Regions from separate parts of the Homo sapiens genome. Here region 1 is linked to region 2. A link means that fine-mapping ties the variant in region 2 to the expression of a gene that starts in the linked region. Tissue or cell type: whole blood. Region 2 holds a variant in brackets; the other region holds the start of a gene. All regions are shown on one strand. Distances are between the middles of the regions.

Evidence for each region. PIP is the estimated chance that this variant, and not a neighbour inherited with it, causes the effect.
Region 1: PLIN3 starts here. The variant in region 2 is fine-mapped to the expression of PLIN3 in whole blood (INTERVAL, PIP 0.99).

The regions. Positions count from the first base shown.
Region 1 is chr19:4,863,259-4,871,359 of GRCh38, reverse strand. PLIN3 (perilipin 3) reads left to right here and starts at 3,693. Exons shown (of 8, transcript NM_005817.5): 1 at 3,693-3,751. RefSeq lists silencers at 992-1,071, 948-1,112, 3,536-3,715, a cis regulatory region at 793-1,279 and enhancers at 3,933-4,433, 4,376-4,725.
Region 2 is chr19:4,956,995-4,965,088 of GRCh38, reverse strand. UHRF1 (ubiquitin like with PHD and ring finger domains 1) reads right to left here. Exons shown (of 17, transcript NM_001048201.3): 17 at 2,935-4,432. The coding sequence ends at 4,286. Among named protein-coding and RNA genes, the nearest start is that of KDM4B, 8.1 kb to the left of the region's middle. The variant CAG/G (reference allele first, on the strand shown) is at 4,515.

The DNA of each region.
Region 1 (8,101 bases), 94 kb after region 2:
CAGTGAGCCGAGATCGTACGGCTACACTCTAGCCTGGGCGACAGAGCAGAACTCCATCTCGAAAATAAATAAATAAATAAATAATAAAAGAAAATGGGAATCAGGCTGCTGAATAATGTAATGAAATAGCCCAGAAAACAGCAGCTATCTCATTTTTGGTTTTGAGACAGGGTCTTGCTCTGCTACCCAGGCTGCAGTGCAGTGGTGCAATCTTGGCTCACTGCAACCTCCACCCCTCCAGTCTCAAGCGATCCTTCCACCTCAGCCTGTGGAGAAGCTGGGATTACAGGCATGCGTCACCATACCCGGTTAATTTTGTATTTTTGGTAGAGACAGGATTTTGCCATATTGGCCAGGCTGGTCTTGAACTCCTGAGCTCAAGTGATCTGTCCGCCTTGGCTTCCCAAAGTGCTGGGATTACCGGTGTGAGCCACCGGCCAACAGTAGCTATTTCTTTTTTTCTTTTCTTTTCTTTTTTTTTTTTTTTGAAACAGAGTTTCACTCTTGTTGCCCAGGCTGGAGTGCAATGGCACAATCTGGCTCACTGCAACATCTGCCTCCCAGGTTCAAGTGATTCTCCTGCCTCAGCCTCCTGACTAGCTGGGATTACAGGCATGCGCCACCGCACCTGGCTAATTTTGTATTTTTAGTAGGGACGGGGTTTCTCCATGTTGGTCAGGCTGGTCTCAAACTCCCGACCTCAGGTGATCCGCCCACCTCGGCCTCCCAAAGTGCTGGGATTATAGGCGTGAGCCACTGCGCCCAGCCAACAGTAGCTATTTCTTACCTCTCACCCTAGGGCTGTGGGAGGCCAGGCGGGGACTCCTGGGCAGATGTTGCCATCAAGAAGAACCAAAAGCCTGGGAGATGACTCTGTCTCAAAAAAAAAAAACAACAAAAAACGGTGTGGGGCAAAATCACCAGGGCTCATCCCCTAGACCAGAGCTATTTTGTTACTCAAGGCCACTAAGAAGTTAAGGGTTAACAGGCAAATCTCCCACTGACCTTGAATCTTGGATGAGTCACTTCCCCTCTCTGAGCCATCCCAGCCCTCCCCTCCTCCCTCTCTCTCACTCACTGTACTCCAGCCACTGGGGCCTCCTCACTGTTCTAACAGGCAGGGTGTGGTCCTGCCTCAGGGCCTTTGCACGGACTGTGCCTGCTGCCTGGAATGCTGTTCCCCCTAACTGGACATGGTTCCCTCCTGGCCTCTCTCTCTTCTCTTCTTGGATGTCACTCAGAAAGGCCTCCTCTGACCTCCCTACTAAAAACTGCGGCCCCACCGGGTGTGGTGGCTCATGCCTATAACCCAGCACCTTGAGAGGCCAGGGCTGGTGGATCACATGAGGTCAGGAGTTCGAGACCAGCCTGGCCAACATGGTGAAGCCCCGTCTCTACTAAAAAAAAAAAAAATACAAAAATTGGCCAGGCATGGTGGCACAGGCCTGTAATCCCAGCCACTTGGGAGGTCGAGGAACAAGAATTTCTTGAACCTGGGAGGCGGAGGTTGCAGTGAGCCGAGATCGTGCCACTGCACTCCAGCCTGGGTGACAGAGTGAGACTCTTTGACAAAAAACAAGAACAAAATCCCCGCATCCCCCACATTCATCTCGTCCTTTGCTGTCCTACCACGTGACACATTGTAAAGTTCTCTCACTTATGTTGTTCCTTGTTCGTCTCTCCCACTGGGTAGTGTGTGTCACCAGGGCTGGAATTCTTATCTGTTTAGCTCACCGCTGTCCCCAGCGCAAGGACTCAATAAATATGGTTGAATGAGTGAATGAGAAGGAAAAAGCCTGTTACAAATGTCATGGAATGGGGTCTCAGATTCACTTGAGAATCTCACTAGCTGCCTGAAGTTACTTAAATTTAAACATTCAGGCCAAGCGCGGTAGCTCACACCTGTAATCCCAGCACTTTAGGAGGCCGAGGCAGGTGGATCACTTGAGGCCAGGAGTTCGAGACCAGCCTGGCCAATATGGTTAGTCCTCGTCTCTACTAAAAATACAAAAATTAGCTGGGTGTGGTGGCGCGCGCCTGTAATCCCAGCTACTTGGGAGGCTGAGGCAGGAGAACCGCTTGAACCCGGGAGGTGGAGGTTGTAGTGAGTCGAGATCGCGCCATTGCACTCCAGCCTGGGAGACAGAGCGAGACTCTGCCTCAAAAAAAAAAAAAAAATTTAAACATTCAGCTTCTCACTGTGCATTAGCCACGTGGTGCTTTTGGCTACAATGTTGGATGGCACACAATTCTAGAATTGCAGAAAGTTCTATTGGACAGTGCTAGCATAGACCCTGTCCCCACTCACCCCCCCAAAAAAATGCAGTCACAGACACCCAATTTTTCCCATGTTCTTTCTAAAGCTACCAGAAGCTTCATTCTATTCAAATAATTTGGCAGAGGTGGCAAACTGGTGGCCCCTGGGCTGGACAAAGCCCCAGTTGGGTTTCATTTGGTCCAATTGTTCCCTAACAGGCAGGACATGTCTACAGCTTGAACTTCCTGTGGATCTGTGACTCTCCAGGTGGGTCTCCCATAGGGCACTGCTCTCCCCTGCCCCTCTAAGCAGGGCATCACTGCCACCTCCTCAGCAGAAATATTCACCTCCTCCCTGGACCATCTGAGATTGAGACCTTGGTTTATAGACCAAGAGGATAAATAATTTGGGAGGTGGAGAGGGGCGGGGTAAAATCCAAGTGGGGGCAGCTTCAGGAAAAGGTTGATCCAGCAGTCACAGAGCCTGGAGCCTGACCCCTCCATTGCCCCTGGCTGACCCTCTCCAGGCCTCAGTTTCCTTCTCTGCAAAATAGGGATGATTAAAAAGACAATACAGTGCTGGGAGGATGAAGTGGTCTGATGTTGGGCAGATCAGGCCGGAGGCTGGACAAGTTCCCGTGGTGGTTCAAGTCACTCATATAGCTGGGTTGGGCCGGGTGCGGTGGCTCATACCTGTGATCCCAGCAATTTGGGAGGCCCAAGCGGGCAGATCACTTGAGGTCAGGAGTTCAAGACCAACATGGTGAAACCCCGTCTCTGCTAAAAATACAAAAAATTAGCCGGGCGTGGTGGCACGTGTCTGTAATCCCAGCTACTCAGGAGGCTGAGGCAGGAGAATCGCTTGAATCCAGGAGGTGGAGGCTGCAGTGAGCCAAGGTCGCGTCACTGCACTCCAGCCTTAGCGACAGAGCGAGACTGTGTCTCAAAAAAAAAAAAAAAGTGTGTGTGTGTGTGTGTGTGTGTGTGTGTACATATAGCTGAGTCGGAGCCCATGGTGGAGGGCGTGGCCCCTGACGCGCTGGCGAGGGTCACCCTGCAACTCTCCCAGGGTTCTCGCAGCCTCAGTTTGGCCATAGGGGAAATGGGCGACCTGGGGAATCCCAGCACCTGTGCGGCGCCCCCGATCGCACTCACCTCCCAGGGCCAACTTCACAGGGTCCCCAGCTGCGGAGCGGGGGTCCCGTGGCTGGGACAGGCGTGGTCCAAGAGTGCTCCCTCCCCTTCAGGGGCAGGGCGTGGAGTCCTTCCCGGACTTCATGACTTGGCGAGGGGCGGGGCCTAGTGGAGGCGGGGCAGGGAGGAGAGGGGCGGGCCTGGCGCGGGCAATCCCTCAACCTGATTGGTCCCCTCGCCCGTCACTCCAGTGCGCCCCCAACCTACCACGCAGTAAAAGCCACCCCCGCCTCGGCCCGGACGGTTTCCAAGCTGGTTTTGAAGTCGCGGCAGCTGTTCCTGGGACGTCCGGTTGACCGCGGTGAGTGGCGGGGGCGTCTCAGTTGAGCTGGGGGGCGGTGTCCATGGAGTCCTGGGGCACCCCAGGGGCCGGAGGGGTCGGGGAGGGCCTTTCTCGGGGTGGGATTTGCTGGACTCTGCGGCCTGGGGAGGGGTCTTCAGCCCAGGCTGGTCACCCCTCCCCCCAGAAAAATCCAACTTCTGCAACGAAGCTCAGACTTTGAAACCCTCTTCTCACTTCCTGGGACTTTTGAGGGGCGAAAGAGCCCCGTAGAAGGGGTGATATTGAAGGGGGTGGGCTAAATACCGCCCCCCGCCCACCAGGTTTTCTCTAAATTTTGAACAGTTTGCTTTTGGAAACGCCATTTGCAGGCAAGTTTCCTCCTGCGGGCAGAATCTCCGCCCTCCCTTCTGGGGTTTTCAGAGACACCCCCCGCCACCGCAAAGCCCCCTCCCCTACAGATGGTTTTGCCACGGGTGGGGGTGGGGGTTGCCCCAGCTCCTGGCGCCCCCAACTGATTCTGGGGAGGTCTTGGGCAAAGCCTGCCCACTTCCCTCGGGTGGGCGTGGCGACGAGGTGGCTTAAAAGTAGGAAGGCCTATCCGTTAACTGCTTTGGGGTTCTTGTCCCGGCTAGGCCTGGCAGTGGGACCTGGGGCCCTTGGAATTTTGGAAGTCCAGTCTTAGCATGCTCTGAAGTTGCTGGATGGCTGGGTCTGGCCTGGAGCTCCCCTTCTGGAGCCAGCGGCAAGGCAGGTCACTGACCCCCAGGGGTTTCATAGGGTGTTGACATCTGCCATGGCCACCCTTGCTTAAACCAGTTCCAGGAAGTCATGGTGGACAGAGGGGACGGGAGGAAGCTGCCTGAGTCCTAAGTGGGACTTGAGAATCGGTCGAGGCCAGGAGTTTGATGCCTGCCTACCTGGCCCCCTGCCCAGGTGAGCTCAGGCTCCAAAGGAGGTGAGGAGAAGCACAGATTTAGGCAATGATCACTGGGAGGTAGGTATGTCTTCTCACCTGACTTCCCAGTTGGGGGACTTTTGTACCTAGCAGGAAGCTGGTTCCTGGCTGGCTTTACCCCTTTGTCCGTGGAAGCCAGAGTGCGGTGAGATAGTTTATGGAGCACTTACTATGTGCCGGGCACGGATCTGAGCTTCCCCGGAGCAGCGTCTCCTCCAGTCCACAGGGACTCCAGGCTCTTGTGAAACACTTATACACATTTCACAGATGTGGCAAGCAAGACTCCTAGGGGATGCTGCCTTCCCAAACTCCTATTCCTAGTGAGTTGCCAAGCTGGGATTAGAACCCATTCTGGGCTGGGCAGGATGACTCACGCCTATAATCCCAGCACTTTGGGAGGCTGAGGTGGGCGGATCATTTGAGGTCAGGAGTTGGAGAACAGCCTGGCCAACATGGTGAAACCCCACCTCTACTAAAAATATAAAAATTAGCCGGACGTGGTGGCGGGCACCTGTATTCCCAGATACTCTGGAGGCTGAGGCAGGAGAATCGCTTGAACCTGGGAGATGGAGGTTACACTGAACTGAGATCACGCCACTGCATTCCAGCCTGGGCGACAGAGCAAGACTCTGTCTCAAAAAAAAAAAAAGGCCGGGCATGGTGGCTCACGCCTGTAATCCCAGCATTTTCGGAGGCCGAGGCGGGCGGATCATGAGGTCAGGAGATCGAGACGATCCTGGCTAACATGGTGAAATCCCATCTCTACTAAAAATACAAACAATTAGCCAGGCGTGGTGGCGGGCGCCTGTGGTCCCAGCTACTCGGGAGGCTGAGGCAGGAGAATGGCGTGAACCGGGGAGGCAGAGCTTGCAGTGAGCTGAGATCGCGCCACTGCACTCCAGCGTGGGCGACAGGGCGAGACTCCGTCTCAAAAAAAAAAACAAAAAAAAAAAAATGGAAAGAACCCAATCTGGACTCCAGATCTAGTGCTTGCAAAACATCATCATTTTGCTGGGTTCTGCTTAGGGGACATCGAAGCAAGGCCACCAGGAGGTGGGGCCTCATTCCTCTGGGAAAAGATGCTCAGACTCAAGGCCACAGGTTCTTAGGCTCACACCAGAATTCCCCAGGAAAGCAGCCCATAAGACAGGCATGACCTTTAGCCCCATGTTTTTTTTTTTTTGAAACGGAGTCTCCCTCTGTCACCCGGGCTGGAGTGCAGTGGTGCGATCTCGACTCACTGCAACCTCCACCTCCCAGGTTCAAGCAATTCTCCTGCCTCAGCCTCCTGTGTAGCTGGGACTACAGGTGTCAGCCAAAATACACGGCTAATTTTTGTATTTTTAGTAGAGATGGGGTTTCACCATGTTGGTCAGGCTGGTCTCAAACTCCCGACCTTAGGTGATCTGCCCGCCTCAGCCTCCCAAAGTGCTGGGATTACAGGCGTGAGCTACCATGCCTGGCTTTTTCTTTTTTCTTTGAGATGGAGTCTTCCTCTGTCACCCAGGCTGGAGTGTAGTGGCGCAGTCTTGGCTTACTGCAACCTCCGCCTCCCAGGTTGAAGCAATTCCCCTGCCTCAGTCTCCCAAGTAGCTGGGACTACAGGCGCCCGCCACCACACCCGCACCTAATTTTTGTATTTTTAGTAGAGACAGTGTTTCAGTATGTTGGCCAGGCTGCTCTTGAACTCCTGACCTCATGATCCACCCACCTCAGCCTCCCAGCGTGCTGGGATTACAGGTGTGAGCCACCATGCCCGACCCTTTAGCCTCATATTACAGGTAAGATGACCGAGGCCAGAGGAGGGGAAGGCGCCTTGCTCCAGGGAGCATAGCGTAGGTGGAGCTGGGACTCCTGGCTTCCCCCTGAGAATCTCTTCTGATGATGGTGTCCCAGCTTCATTTCACTAGTCCAGGAAAAGGGAGTTGTGGCTTCATCCCGCTTACATAGACTCACCTGGGGAACCCCGTCCTCCCCACACCCCTGACCTGGACTTCATAGCTCTGCGGTGCAGGCAGGCATGTTATCTCACTTTTTAAAAAAAGCCTAAATTTTGGCTGGGTGCGGTGGCTCACAGCTGTAATCCTAGCAGTTTGGGAGGCCAAGGTGGGCAGATCCCTTGAGCTCAGGAGTTCAAGACCAACCTGGGCAACATGGCAAAACCCCATCTACTAAAAAACAAACAAACAAAACAACAACAACAACAAAAAAAAAAACAAACCACGGCTGAGTGCAGTGACTCATCCTGTAATCCCAGCACTTTGGGAGGCTGAGGCGGGTGGATCACGAGGTCAGGTGTTCAAGACCAGCCTGACCAACATAGTGAAACCCCATCTCTACTAAAAATACAAAAAATTAGCCAGACGTGGTGCACACCTGTAATCCCAGCTACTCAGGAGGCTGAGGCAGGAGAATCGCTTGAACCCAGAAGGCGGAGGTTACAGTGAGCCGAAATCACGCCACTGCACCCCAGCCTGGATGACAGAGCAAGACTCCCTGTCCAAAAAAAAAAAACAAAACCACACACACACACACACACACACACACACACACACACACACACACACACACACTAGCCAGGTGTGGTGGTGCGTGCCTGTAGTCCCAGCTACTTGCAGGGTCAAGGTGGGAGAATTGCTTGAGCGTAGGAGACAGAGGTTGCAGTGAGCCAAGATCGCACCACTACACTGCAGCCTGGGCGACAGAGCGGAAATCCGTCTCAAGAAAGAGAAGAAAGTTTGCCCTATTTAACACATTTTATCCCTTGACTAGATCTTTGTTCATGTCATGTCAGTTACATTTAGTCTTTTGTTTGTTTTGTTTTGTTTTCTTTTTTTTTTTTTTGAGATGGAGTCTCGCTCTGTCACCCAGGCTGGAGTGCAGTGGTGCAATACCAGGTCACTGCAACCTCCACCTCCTGGGTTCAAGCGATTCTCCTGCCTCAGCCTCCTGAGTAGCTGGGATAACTAAACATGGAGGCGTGCACCACCACGCCTGGCTAATTTTTGTATTTTTAGTAGAGACGGGGTTTTGCCATGTTGGCCAGGCTGGTCTCCACCTCCTGACCTCAGGTGATCCTCCTGCCTCGGCCTCCCAAAGTGCTGGGATTAGAGGTGTGACCCACCACATCTGGCCCATGTGAGTTACATTTAAATCTCTTTTTTTTTTTTTTTTGAGACAGAGTTTCGCTCCTGTTGCCCAGGCTGGAGTGCAGCGGCGCGATCTCGGCTCACTGCAACTTCCGCTTCCCGGGTTCAAGTAACTCTCCTGCCTCAGCCTCCTGAATAGCTGGGATTACAGGCATTCGCCACCATGCCTGGCTAATTTTATATTTTTAGTAGAGATGGGGTTTCTCCATGTTGGTCAGGCTGGTCTCGAACTCCTGACCTCAGGTGATCCACCCGCCTTGGCCT
Region 2 (8,094 bases):
TGCAGGGCCTGGGGGAGGGACACAGGGCAAGACTGCGGAAGGGTGTGAGGTTTCTTTTTGTGTGGATGTTAAAGTTCTGTAATTAGATGGTGGTGATGGCTGCATAACTGTATTGACTATACTAAAACCACTAAGCTGGCCAGGCATGGTGGCTCACACCAGTAATCCCAACACTTTGGGAGGCCGAGGCGAGTGGATCACCTGAGGTCGGGAGTTCGAGACCAGCCTGACCAACATGGTGAAACCCTGTCTCTACTAAAAATATGAAAATTAGGCGGGCATGGTGGTGCATGCCTGTAATCCCAGCTACTTGGGAGGCCGAGGCAGAAGAATCACTTGAACTCGGGAGGGGGAGGTTGCAGTAAGCAGAGATCTTGCCACTGCACTCCAGCCTGGGCCACAGAGCGAGACTGTCTCAAAAACAACACAGTAAAATAAAACCACTGAACTGTATGCTTTAAAAGGGTGACCTTTATATTACCTGAACTGTTATCTCCATAGAGCTGTTAAAGATTTTTAGGGTGGGCATGGTAGTTCACATCTGTAATCCCAGCACTTTGGGAGACCCAGACAGGAAGATGGCTTGAGACCAGGAGTTCCAGACCAGCCTGGGCAACAAAGTGAGACTTCTCTCTACTAAAATATATATCTCTCTCTTTAAAAAAGTAGCCAGGCATGGTGGTTTGCACCTGTAGTAGTCCCAGCTACTCAGGAGGCTGAGGCAGGAGGATTGCTTGCGCATGGGAGTTTGAGGCTGCAGTGAGCTATGATGACACCACCACTGTACTCCAGCCTGGGTGACAAAGTGAGATCTTGAATCAAAGACTTTTTTTTTTTTTTTTTTTTTTTTGAGACAGAGTCTCGCTCTGTTGCCCAGGCTGGAGTGCAGTGGTGTGATCTCGGCTCACTGCAAACTCCACCTCCTGGGTTCAAGCGATTCTCCTGTCTCAGCCTCCCAAGTAGCTGGGATTGCAGGTTCATACCATCATGCCCAGCTTATTTTTGTATTTTTAGTAGAGATGGGGTTTCACCATGTTGGACAGGCTGGTCTCAAACTCCTGACCTCAGGTGATCCGCCCACCTCAGCCTCCTAAAGTGCTGCGATTACAGGTGTGAGCCATCGCACCCGGCCAAAGAAATTTTTTTAAGTGAACCAGGAAAGAAATATGCCCAAGATTAGAGTCGGTGGCAAAACAGTTCCACAAATACTTTTCTGGGTTTTGCTCATTTTTTTAAACATGACATTGTTCTTTAAAGGGAGAGAAAAATCAAAAAGAAGGCAGCAATCTCAACAATGAACCCACTTTAGTGTTTTCTAGGAAGGGCCCACTGGGGACATTTATGGAGTTTCCTTCAAGAACTGGGAATCTTATCTTCACGTTCACACTTGACATATTTCTGGTATAATCCACATACCATACAATTCACCCACTTAAAGTGCACAATTCTGGCCGGGCGCGGTGGCTCACGCCTGTAATCCCAGCACTTTGGGAGGCCGAGGGGGGCGGATCACGAGGTCAGGAGATCGAGACCATCCCGGCTAACACGGTGAAACCCTGTCTTTACTAAAAATACAAAAAAATTAGCCGGGTGTGGTGGCGGGCACCTGTAGTCCCAGCTACTTGGGAGGCTGAGGCAGAAGAATGGCGTGAACCCGGGAGGCGGAGCTTGCAGTGAGCCGAGATCACGCCACTGCACTCCAGCCTGGGCAACAGAGCAAGACTCCGTCTCAAAAAAAAAAAAAGGAAAAAATAAAAATAAAAAATAAAGTGCACAATTCTGTGGATTTTAGTATATCCACAGACATGTGCAACCATCAATTTTAGAACATTTTTACCACCTCAAAAAGAAACTCCAGGCTGCACGTGGTGGCTCACGTCTGTAATCCCAGCACTTTGGGAGGCTGAGATGGGAGGATCGCCTAATCACAGGAGTTGGAGACCAGCCTGGGCAACAGAATGAGATCCCGTCTCTCCAAAAAAAAAAAAAAAAAAATTAAATTTGCCAGTTATGGTGCTGCATGCCTGTGGTACCAGCTACTCGGGAGGCTGAGATGGGAGGATCACTTGAGCCCAGGAGTTGGAGGCTGCAATGAGCTGTGATCACACCATTGCACTCCAGCCTGGACAACAGGGCAAGACTGTCTCAAAAACAAAACAAATCTGCCCATATGGTTACTTAACCATCAATAAAAGGCACCAGTAATAGGTTGATGTGAATTAATTAATCTGCAAGACGCAGCCCCTTTACCGTCCCGATTTTTTTTTTTTAAAACGTTTTTAAAGACAGCATCTCATTCTGTTGCCCAGGCTGGAGTACCGTGGTGCAATCAAAGTTCACTGCAGCCTCTAGCTCTGGGGCTCAAGCAATCAGCCTCCTGCCTCAACCTCCTGAGTAGCTGGGACTACAGAAACACACCACCACACCTGGCTAATATTTTTATTTATTTGTAGAGTTGGGGTCTACAGGCTGGTCTCAGACTCCTACACTCAAGTCATCCTCCCAAGAGAAGAGACCAGCAAGCTTTGCTGGCCAGGCAGTGAGTATTTTTCAGCTTTGTGGTCCAGATGGTTTCTGCTGTACCTACTCAGTTCTGCTGATGGTAGCGTAAACGCCACTATATACATAAAGAAATGGGTGTGGTGGTGTCAATAAAACTTTATTTACAGACAGGCAGTGTCCTGACTTGGGTCCCATTGGCTGTCGTTTGCTGACCCCTGCAACTTGACGCTGCAAAGTGAACAGCCCAGCACCTCCCAGGCTGCGGTTAGGACCTCAGCCCGTCACCGTCATCTCCTGGGTCTCAGTTTTCTCATCTGTAAAGTGGGGCTGAAGCCACCTGCCTCATGTTTCTCCTGGGATTTTTGTAAAATAGTGCACAAAAGTAGACAGAAAGCTCCAAAGGCAGTTTGCAAATAGGAAGACACAATCAAGTCTATCTGTGAAAAACATTTATTCTGAGAATCTAAAATCTGGACAAAGTACTGGACTTTAGAAAAAGCCTACACAAAATTGTCTCATTCTTCCCTAATACATTAATAATCTAAGAATAAGGAGGTGAAAAAAACCCTTTAAAAATAACATTGCTCCAGTTTGTCTGCAGGTATGTGATTTAAAATATCCCTGTTTTATTGAGGTATAGGCTGCAAACTTTGGTAAAATTAGAAAAATTAACAAACCCTTTCAAAAGAAAAAAAATACAAAAACAAAAACAACCAAACCCTAACGTTATATCTTTCTTGGTACATATACAGTAACTACAAAAAAAATTCATTTAGAAAATGTGTTCATTAAGAGAAAAAAAAATTTTAAAAAAACCCTCTTGTAAGTTCTCACTTGCTGAGTTAAAAAAATTGAATGTAAATGATCTATAAGGCTCAAACGGTTCCCAAGCACCCATCCGGTGTCAGGAAGAACTGGATGACCGCAGTTTCTAGAATCTGGTTGACATTTTCAATAATTCAGTGCTAACAACAAAGACTGTCGTCTTTAGAAAGAAGGAACGAATCAAAGGCACTTGCACGTGACTTCGTGTGCTGGCGTCCGTCCGTGGCCGCCTTCGTCGGACAGCGTCAGTCACACGCCTGGCCCCACGTGGAGCAGAGTCCCCTTGAGGCCATTTCTGCGTGGCCCCAACTCCCTGCTCTCGTGGGCAGAGGACTTTTCACGCGGATCTCAGACGCTAAGCAGTCTGGTGGGGGATGGCTTTGAGGCAAAGGTTTGAACTAGGCCCGAGATGTTTCCTCTTTTCCTTGCAACAACTTCAACAGACAGCTGAGCCACGCCATGCCACGGGCTGCCACGGGCCACCACGGGGAACCATGTCACTGGACTTTAGATGACAAAATGCTGTCAGGAAGATGCTTGCTCTGACCTTGGGGGCCAGAACCCGAGAGAAGGACTGATCCTGTCGCCTTCTTAAAGAGTTGGTGGCAGCAACTTCTGAGAACTTGACACCAGAAACATCAACAGCCTCCACACCACGTAGTTTCTGATTCCATCTTTAAAAAATCTTGTGTTGTTTTGTCGAGAAATTGCAGGCTTTTATGTTTTCAAAGAACTAAACACAATACTGAGAAGTCCAACTTTTAGCCAGAATACATAAATTCCTGAAAATGTATAGATTTGAAAAATAAAAATAAAAAAAAAAAGGAAGACAAACCTTTTTAGGGAACGGAGGAAACACTACCTGTTTAAGTTAAGCCCACTAAGAACAAAATCAGTGCCGATGAACGAGCCCTCCGACACGTTTTCAGCAAAACGCCTGTCGAGAAGTGCTTGGAGATCACCGGCCATTGCCGTAGCCGGGGAAGAGCTGGTTGAGGACGGTCTGCAGAGGCTGGTTCACCTGCATGGCATAGCTGCGGCCCAGGTCGTAGCGGCAGGCAGGGCAGCTGAACACCTGTGCCCGAAAGGATCTGTCCAGGCAGTCCTGTAAGACACAGCAGGCGCGTGAGAAGTGCCATCCACACCATCAGGTTTGCTCCTGGCCACCTCTCCCAGGACTGTGGGGA[CAG/G]TCTCACCAGGTCCAGAGGCCCCTCTGACCTTCAGTCTCACTTTCCACCTGCTGCCCATCACCAGCCTGGCCCCCCTAGGGGCCCTCAAAGATTCCAAGCTCACCCGGCCTCCAGGCTTTTGTCCCTGGCAGGTCATGCAGCTTAACAGCTCGGTCCCCCGGCTCTCATCACTCACAGCTCAGCTCAAGTCACCTCCCTTATGGGGCCTTCCCTGACACCTCCCTAGAGGCAGTCCCATCCCCTCACCCCATCTGCCTTCAAGACGGCACCTCTCCTTCCACCTGTGGAGCCGTGTTATATATTATTAATGTGCTTATCTTATCTACAACAGGGCAGATGCTCCCTGAGCTTTGAGGCTGTGTTCTCTCTCAACACCAAGCACAGTGTATACAGTAGATGCTTAATAAACACACACATCAGGCCAAGCATCGTGGCTCATGCCTGTAATCCCAGCACTCTGGGAGGCCGAGGGGGGCAGATCACTTGAGGTCAGGAGTTCAAGACCAGCCTGGCCAACATGGTGAAACCCTGTCTCTACTAAAAATACAAAAATTAGCCAGGCACATGCCTGTAATCCCAGCTACCTGGGAGGCTAAGGCAAGAGAATGGCTTGAACCCGGGAGGCGGAGGTTGCAGTGAGCTGAGATCACGCCATTGCACTCCAGCCTGGGTGACAGGGCAAGACTCTGCGTCTCAAAGAAAAAACAAAAACAAAAAAATTAGCCGGGCGTGGCTACTCCGGAGGCTGAAGTGGGAGGATCACCTGAACCCAGGGAGGCAGGCTGAGGCTGCAGTGAGCCATGATCACGCCATTGCACTCCAGCCTGAGCGACAAAGCAAGACCTTGTCTCGAAAAAAATAAAAAATAAACATACACGTCAATGAGAAGAAAGGGGAAAAGGAGGAAGGAACCAAGTCTGGTGGATTCAGATTCCTAACTTCAAGCTCAATCAACCAAGTCGTGCCTGGGGAAGAAAGCCAGGAGAAGACAGAGCTGAGAGGCCTGGAGTCTCCACTTCCCAAGCAGACAAACAGGGAAGATGCCACCGGGCTGGCTGCACGCCAGGGAGGAGTGACACGCCGTACACAGGTGCACAGATGCCTACGCAGGGGGCACATGTCTGCAGCATGTCGTCACACAGCTGGGCGAGGGCGGTGACCACATGGGGGAGAGGCCTGGTGACCACAGCACAGTCACCTGCCCCAGGCAGCCTGTGGCTTTTGTTTTTGTTGTTTTTTTTTAAGATAGAGTCTCGCTCTGTCGCCCAGGCTGGAGTGCAGTGGCGTGATCTTGGCTCACTGCAACCTCCACCTCCCGGGTTCAAGGGATTCTCGTGTCTCAGCCTCCTGAGTAGCTGGGATTACAGGCGCCCACCAGCACACCTGGCTAATTTTTGTATTTTTAGTAGAGACAGGGTTTCATCATGTTGGCCATGGTGGTGTATGCCTGTAGCCCCAGCTACTCAGGAGGCTAAGGCAGGAGGATCTCTTTAGCCCCGCGAGGAGTTCAAGGCTGCGATGAGCTATGATGGCACCACTGCACTCCAGCCTGGGCGACAGAGTGAGATGCTGTCTCTGAATGTTTTTTTCAATTTTTTTTTTTTTTTTTTGAGACAGAATCTTGCTCTGACGCCCAGGCTGGAGTACAATGGCGCGATCTCAGCTCACCGCAACCTGTACCTCCCAGGTTCAAGCGATTCTACCACCTCAGTCTCCTGAGTAGCACCTGTCACCTCACCCAGCTAATTTTGTTTTAATTTTTAGTAGAGATGGGGTTTCACCATGTTGCCCGGGCTGGTCTCAAACTCCTGACCTCAAGTGATCCTCCCACCTCAGCCTCCCCAAGTGCTGGGATTACAGGCATTAGCCACCACGGCTGGCCTCAAGTTTATAATTTAAAAAGATCAAGGTGGAAGGTCACAGCCTGTTTCCCAGAACCCCTCCGATGCTGAGCTTCCCAAGTTGGAACAGAGCAACAAGGACAGATTGTGGGGACACCGTGATGCTGGTTAGCCCCTTCCTTCACATCCTCAGCGCTTCCGCGCCTTCACACCGATGCACAGGACAGATGGTTTCCAATGTCCCCACAGTCCTTCCTACCGCCACGGGGCTCCCAGGCCTCCCTCTTCCAATAGCCCCCCACAGCCAGCCCTCTGCCTGTGCCCACCTCCTGAGCACCTCCTTCCTGCCAGAGGCTAAGCCGGGACCTTCACAACAACCTGGCATCCAGGACAGTGTTACCAGGCCCCTTCTCACTGTGGCCAACTGAGGCTTGGAGGGATTAGTGCCTGCACGCCTGAGAGGTGACAGATGGCCAGACCCGGACCACCAGCCCCAAAGACACCATGGCCTCTCACCCCTTCTGCCACCTCACTCAGGGCACTCAGGGAGGCCCACACAGCTGAAGGGACTCAGGCCACAGGGCGAGGCAGGTGGGGCCCGAGGAGGCAGAGATGCCATGGGCATGACTGGGAACACCCCATCTCCTGACCTTCCCTGAGCTGCCTCCTGGCATGAAAACAAACACGGGGTCTGAGACCCGGGGGTGTGGCCCATGGCTGAGAGGACTGCGGGACTGCAGTTGGAAGGAAAACCGCCAGCAACTCAGAAGCCTGGGGAGATCCGTGGGGTGGCAGGGTCAGTCCCTTCCACACCTGTCCACCGGGACTGCCGGCTCTGGCCAGAGGTTGCAGCAGAGAAACCATCACCCAGACCCACACTGCCCACCTGGGCAGTTCTGCCCCCAGGGGACACTGGAAGGTGTCTGGGGATGTCTGTGATTGTCTCGACTAGGCAGGGAGCTCCTGGCATGGAGTGGGTGGGGGCCGGGGATGCTGCTCAGCACCCTGCAGTGCCCAGGACGGCCCCACCCCAGACAATGATCCAGCCCCAAGGCCCACAGCACAGGGGGGAAGAGACCCTGTCCTGGCCCCAAACCAATCGGTTTGAAAACCATCAGCTGCGGGGTGGGCGCGGTGGCTTACACCTGTAATCCCAGCACTTTGGGAGGCCAAGGCGGGTGGATGACAAGGTCAGGAGATCGAAACCATCCTGGCTAACACGGTGAAACCCCATCTCTACTAAAAATACAAAAAATTAGCCGGGCACGGTGGCGGGCGCCTGTAGTCCCAGCTACTCGGGAGGCTGAGGTGGGAGAATGGCGTGAACCCGGGAGGCAGAGCTTGCAGTGAGTGGAGACTGCGCCACTGCACTCCAGCATGGGCAACAGAGCGAGACTCTGTCTCAGAAAAAAAAAAAAAAAAAAAAAAAAAAACCATCAGCTGGGATCTTGTGTCCCTCCTACGACTGACCACTTGTCCTGAGTTTAAAGCCCATGGCAGGCCACCACCCCAGTGCCCAGAGCCACTGCAGGCCCCAGCTGCTGACTTCCCACCCAGGCTTCTTCACCTGCTGTCCCAGGTACAAGGGATGCTGCCTGGTAACACCACCTCCTCCAAGAAGCCTTCTTTCCTGACCCCTAGGGGATGTGCACCTCCTCTCCAGACCTTAGGCCAAGACTGTGGCCCATCCTCTCCCACCCTGGCCCCTTGACCATACAGGACTTGGGGGAGAATGT